Linked DNA regions of Homo sapiens: region 1 is linked to region 2. The links come from fine-mapping of genetic effects on gene expression. A gene starts in region 2. The other region holds a variant in brackets. All regions are shown on one strand. Distances are between the middles of the regions.

The links. PIP is the estimated chance that this variant, and not a neighbour inherited with it, causes the effect.
Region 1: its variant is fine-mapped to the expression of MRPL14 in aorta (GTEx, PIP above 0.99).

What each region holds. Positions count from the first base shown.
Region 1 is chr6:44,089,454-44,092,355 of GRCh38, forward strand. It overlaps the pseudogene RPL29P16. Among named protein-coding and RNA genes, the nearest start is that of SCIRT, 16 kb to the left of the region's middle. The variant G/T (reference allele first, on the strand shown) is at 1,389.
Region 2 is chr6:44,126,231-44,129,132 of GRCh38, forward strand. It overlaps MRPL14 (mitochondrial ribosomal protein L14), which reads right to left and starts at 1,222. Exons shown (of 3, transcript NM_032111.4): 1 at 1,114-1,222. TMEM63B (transmembrane protein 63B) reads left to right here and starts at 1,324. Exons shown (of 24, transcript NM_018426.3): 1 at 1,324-1,448. RefSeq lists silencers at 955-1,014, 1,045-1,094, 1,115-1,514, 1,555-1,664, 1,845-2,004.

The DNA.
Region 1 (2,902 bases), 37 kb before region 2:
GGATCTTGGGCTTAACCTCCTTGGGCTTTCGAGGACCTTGATAGCCTCAGCACGTGCCCTCATGGCCTCGGCATTGTTGGCCTGCATCTTTTTTAGGCCCTTCTTGTTGTGCTTCTTGGCAAGGTGCATGCTCCTTAGGAACTTGAGGTCCACCCCATTAAGACATTTGTATCTTTGTGATCGGGGTTTCCTGATGCCATTTCTGTGCCATTTTGGGGACTGGTTGTGTGTGTTGTGGTTCTTGACGTTGCCATGTCTGCACCTTAAGCCGCAGCTGCTAAAGCACCTAGAACCGGAAAAAGCTAGAAAGTTTAAATGAACTAATGTATGTAAAGCATTCAGCCTAGGGCCTGGCACATAGAAGGTGCACAACATGGGCTATTAGCATTACTACTGTGATCAGGACCACCCCAACCAAGTCATGCGCTCTTTTGGGGGAAGGAACTGCATCTTATTTATCTTTGTCTATTTGAGCATTTGCCATGGGCTTGGCACACAGTAGGTGCTCCATGTCTTAGATCAGGTTCCCCAGAAGCAGATCCTGAGATGAGGATTCATAGCTAAATGATTTGGGAGTGCTCCCAGGGAAACTGGAGAGGGACTCGGGGAGCAAGACAAGAAAGTAAGAGGCCAAGAAGGGTGCAGATTCAGGCAAAATTCTGCAGAGGGTGACTTCTGCCTGATCTCGCAGGGGAACTTGGGAGTGTAAATTACACCTCAGGGTTGTCCTCGCCCCAGGCAAGGGAGCTGGGACCTCACTCTCCTGCACCTCAGTCATTGGCTAAGGGCCACCATGGAGGGGATAGATTTCCAGGCACTTCCCATCATGCTCCAGTAGCAGAGGGCAGTGCTGAGAGACCACCTAGAAGGGAAGGCACCCAGGGGCCAGGAGGGTCCATGAAAATGGAAAAGGGCTGGAGGGGACCTGCCACCTTCCATAAATGTCATCCCAGCCTCTGAAAGATCACAGTTCCCCAGGAAGTCCAGGACAGTGGAGGCAGAGTGGGCAGAGGGGACTGCCAGGCCGTGGGAGCAGCTCTAACTTACGCGTTGGTCAGAGCCGGGAGGTCCTTTGAGTGGCCAGCCTCCCTACCAGCTGACAGGGGCAGGCCTGGGACTGCCTGAGTTGGTCTTAAGAGCCCCTACTATGTGCCTGGCGTAGATGCTGAGTTCTTCACATGATTTTCTCATTTAACCCTCACACCACCCCTAGACAGATGACTCTGAGGCATGGAGGCATAGCATAGAGAGGCCTTCCTGTGACCCCCCAAAGAGTGAAGGGCAAAGATGATTGATGTCATTAAGAAATGCAAATAAAAACCACAATGAGCTATCATTTCACACCCACTAGGGTGGTTATAATAAAAAATCTTTAATGAAATATAAGT[G/T]TTGGTGAAGATGTGGAGAAATGAGATCCCTCACACATTGCTAGTGGGAATGTAAAAGGGTACAGCTGCCGTGGAAGTTTGGCAGTTCCACCTTAAGCTAAACACAGAAGCACGACAGGACCCTGAAATTCCACTCTTAGTATAGACTAAAACAAATTAAATACACTTGTTCAGACAAAAGCTTGCACAAGAATGTTCACAGCAGCACTATTCACAACCCCAACAGTGGAAACAACCCCTATGTCCACCACTGATGAATGGATAAACAAAATGTGGGTATATCCATACAATGGAATATTATTCAGTCTCATAAAAAGAAACAAAATACCGACACATGCTACAACATGGATGAACCTTGAAAACATTATGCTGAGTAGAAGAAGCCAGACACAAAAGGCCATATAGTGTACAATCCCATTTATAGGAAATGTTCAGAATGGGGAGATTTTTAGAGACAGAATGCAGATTGCTGGCTGCCAGGGGCTGGGAGTCAGGGACTGAGGAGCGGTGTGGAACTGGGGGGTGGTGACAGTCAAGAAGCATTTTCTTTTTTTTTCTTTTCTTTTCTTTTTTTTTTTGAGATAGGGTCTCACTCTGTCACCCAGGTTGGAGTACAGTGGCATGATCTCCGCTCACCACAGCCTCAACCTCCTGAGCTCAAGCAGTCCTCCCACCTCAGCCTCCCAAGTAGCTAACTACATGGGCACACCATCACAAGAACTCATTTTTGTATTTTTTTTTTGTAGATACAGGGTCTCCCCATGTTGCCCAGGCTGGTTTTGAACTCCTGGGCTCAAGCAATCCACCCGCCTCAGCCTCCCAAAGTGTTGGGATTACAGGCATGAGCCACCGTGCCCAGCCTGCACAGCATTTTCAATGTACTAAATGCTGCTAAATTATACACTTTTTAAGGCCAGGTGCAGGGCTCACGCCTGTAATCCCAGAACTTTGGGAGGCCAAGGTGGGCGGATTGCCTGAGCTCAGGAGTTTGTGACCAGCCTGGGCAACATGGTGAGACCCCATCTCTACTAAAAACACAAAAAATTAGGCAGGCGTGTTGGCACACACCTGTAATCCCAGCTACTTGCGAGGCTGAGACAGGAGAATCACTTGAACACAGGAGGCAGAGGTTGCAGTGAGCCGAGATTGCACCACTACACTGCAGCCTGGGTGACAGAGTGAGACTGTCTCCTAAATAAATAAAACATTTTAAAATGGTTAAAATGGCAACTTTTATGTGTACTCTGCCAGAATTCTCTTAAGTTAAAAAAAAATGTGAGTTTTGAACCTCCCCTCCAAGGGCCTGGGAGCTGCCAACACAGAGTCAGCCACAGTGTTTCCAGATGGACAGAACGAATCAAAAAGATGTCTGCCAGACACTATGCCAACAGGAAGATGGGACTCAAGTTGTTTTTAAAATTTTTTGTGCCTTGGCCTGCTGGAGAAATAAAAGCTCTGAACTTGAGTTCACATAGGCCTGAATGTAAATGCTGGTTCCAACACTGGCTGTGTGA
Region 2 (2,902 bases):
CTCACACGTGTGTGTACACCTGAAGTGTCAAGAAACAATACCCTAAGTGCAACACCCTCTGATATTTTCTATTTCAAGTGGCCGTGATCTACTAAACTGATTTCCAACTCACCAATAGGATTCAGTTTGAAAAACACTGCAATAAATCAAACCTTACAGTTGCATTCCACAAGCTACTAATGAACTCTTGAAAATCCAGCATACAGCAGAGACGCTGACCAACTACAAGATCCAAACCCCCCAGGTGGGCAGTGTCCTTCTGTTCAGCAGTGGCAGTTCCCCACCACCACCAGCCCTGAGAGTTAATTATCTCCCAAACTCCCAGAGTTTCCCAAGTAGCCTGAGGTGTCTGTCATATGCCCTTTTAACCTCTTTATAAATTCAGTCCCGTCCGTCTCTTACGGTGGCAAAGTTCATTTATCGTCGGCTGTGGAAAGCAATACTTCCTTTTTGTCCCCTCCAGGAACCAGAAATTAAATGACCAGGTTGGTGCCCGTTGTGCCTTTATGATCTATTTGTGTGGGTGATATATAGAAAGAGTCTCAGTCTCTCCCTTCATCTTTCCAGTCTTAATCACTGGTAGATGCAGTCTCTGGTGAAATAAGAAACCAGGGAACCCCCTGGCCTGGGGGAGGGCGCACTCATCAGCGTTGACAGAGTGAAAGCAAAAACTCAATCCTCACACCACAGAGGCGTCTGGCTAACTCATCTCCAGACCTAAGTTGGGAAAGGGGAGGGGAGCGCGGAAAGCGGAGAAGCCGGAGGAGACGCTCCGGAGTGACCAGCGACGGCTGAACGCAGCCCGCCCTCCCCAAGTCGACGCCGCAACCCGGGGAAAGCAGGTGAGCGCCGGCCACGGACTTGGGGGTCGCAGAAGCAGCCCACGGAGAGCGGAAGGGAGGAGGATCCGGGTAAGGGGCCTCCCCTCCCCGTCGGGACCCCCCTCCCCGTCGGGACCCCCCCCTCCCCGTCGGGACCCCTCCCACTGACGCTCTGCCTCCCACTCTGGCCTCTCCTCACTCACCCCGGGGAGTGGGCCTCCCCTACTGCAGAGAAAGGAAGAGGAGAAGGAGGGAATGAGGACTTAACGCCCACCCCTGCCCCCCACCATACCGCTCTCGCCGCCCGGGAAAATCCCGCCGCGGGCCCCACCAGCCAAGCGCCGCCTTCGCCCCACGCGGCCTCTTCCTAGCGCCTGCGCGCCAGGCCCAGCCCGGCGGACGCGATCTGAGAGTGCGCGCGCACCTTGCGTGCGCCGGCGTGCGGGGCGGGACCTGCGGGGCTCCGCCCCCTCCCCCTCCCTCCCCCCGCTCCCCCTCCCCCATACACTGCCGCGGCCGCCGCAGGAGCCCGGAGCTCGAGCCGCCCAGCGACTCCCCCTCCCCCTCCCCCAGCCCCGCCCCGCCCCAACCCGGGGCTCCGAGCCGGAGCCGAGTCTGCGCCTGGGGGTGAGTACGCGACCCCTACCCAGCCCTCGCTCTTTTCTTCGAAGATCCCACCACCACCCAAAGAAAAAACCTGGACTCAGCTGCGCGTCCCCTCCCTTCAACCTCCTGCGGGACCCAGAGGTGCCCGGGCCCGCGGGACCCAGGGGTGGCGCGCGCTGCCCCCAACCCCGCACCATCCCGAGCCAAATGTGAGTCCTCCAACCCCTGCCGGAGGTCCAGATACGCGCCGCCGGCTCTCCCCAGCCCCGGGGAGATCCCAAAGGGTGGGACCCCCGCCCCCGGCCCCCGAGTGCCACTCTTCTCCCACCTGCCCGGTGCAGGTGCGCGTCCCCTGCGCGACCCTCGGGGGTGCCAGCTGCGCCCCGCCTGTCCGCCGCCGTTTGGGGAACTAGCCGCCCCCGCCCCCGAGTTTTGGACCCCGGGGTCGCCAAGTCCGATGCCTTCTGTGCCTTTTATTTTTTCTGCTGCTCCCGGGGGCGAGTACACCCGAAGCCGGTCCGGGGTAAGGGCTCGGGCTCGGGCAAGGGCAGGGTTCGCAGGTGCTGGCACGAGGCCGGCCGCTGCCCCCGGCTCTGGGGACTGACTGGTCGGCGGGCTGGAGAGGCGGCCGGCCCCGGGAGCGTGTCCTCTCCTTGCGCCCCACACAGTGCAGTTCATTCATGAGCCGCCCGGGCCTGCGTTGGAGGGTGCGGTGGGGAAAAGATTCAGACGCGAAACCGAGAGTGGGGCAAAGGCCCTGTTGTGGGGAGGGGGCGCCGCTTTGTCCCTCCTGGCTGTCTTGACCGCCTAAGGCGGACAGTCCCAAAGCTTGGCACCTTGTTCCCCAGAAAAGGAAAGGACGCTTGGGAAGTGGGGAGGAGAGGTCAGAGGGGCTGGCTGCCCTTGGGGCGCTGTGCTGCCCCCTGCCTGGGTCCCCTGGGCAGAGGTCTGGCCGCTCGGGGCAAGCCTGAGCACTCCACCGCCCTGGGGGGCTGGGGCTTGCCTACCCATTACCAGTCTGCAGCAGCCGGGGAGCAATGAGGCTGTGCCCAACACCTGCTGAAGAGGGGCCCATCCTGCCTCCCAGGCCAGGGTGAGGTGGGGAGTGGGAGTGTCAGCCAGGCTTCAAGTGGGGGTGTGCTGGCAGCGTGATTGTCCTCCAGGGCACCAGAGGGTCCAGGCCTTGGCATGCCCCAGGTGGCACATGCTGGGGCCTGCTGTTGGCTCACTCAGTGCAGTCTTGGCCTGTGGGTGGATGGGGACATGGCAAGGCAGAAGGCAGGCAGTGGGTAACTAAGAACCCCCTTGGACATCATTCAAGTTCTCTCCAAGTATAGCAGAGTCTTAGAGACCTGCGTTCAAATTCTAGCTCTACTATTCTTCAGCTGTGTGACCTTGACAAGTTACTTAACCTGTCTGAACCTCAGTTTTCATTAAAAAGTGTTTATGCCTATAATTCCAGCACTTTGGGAGAC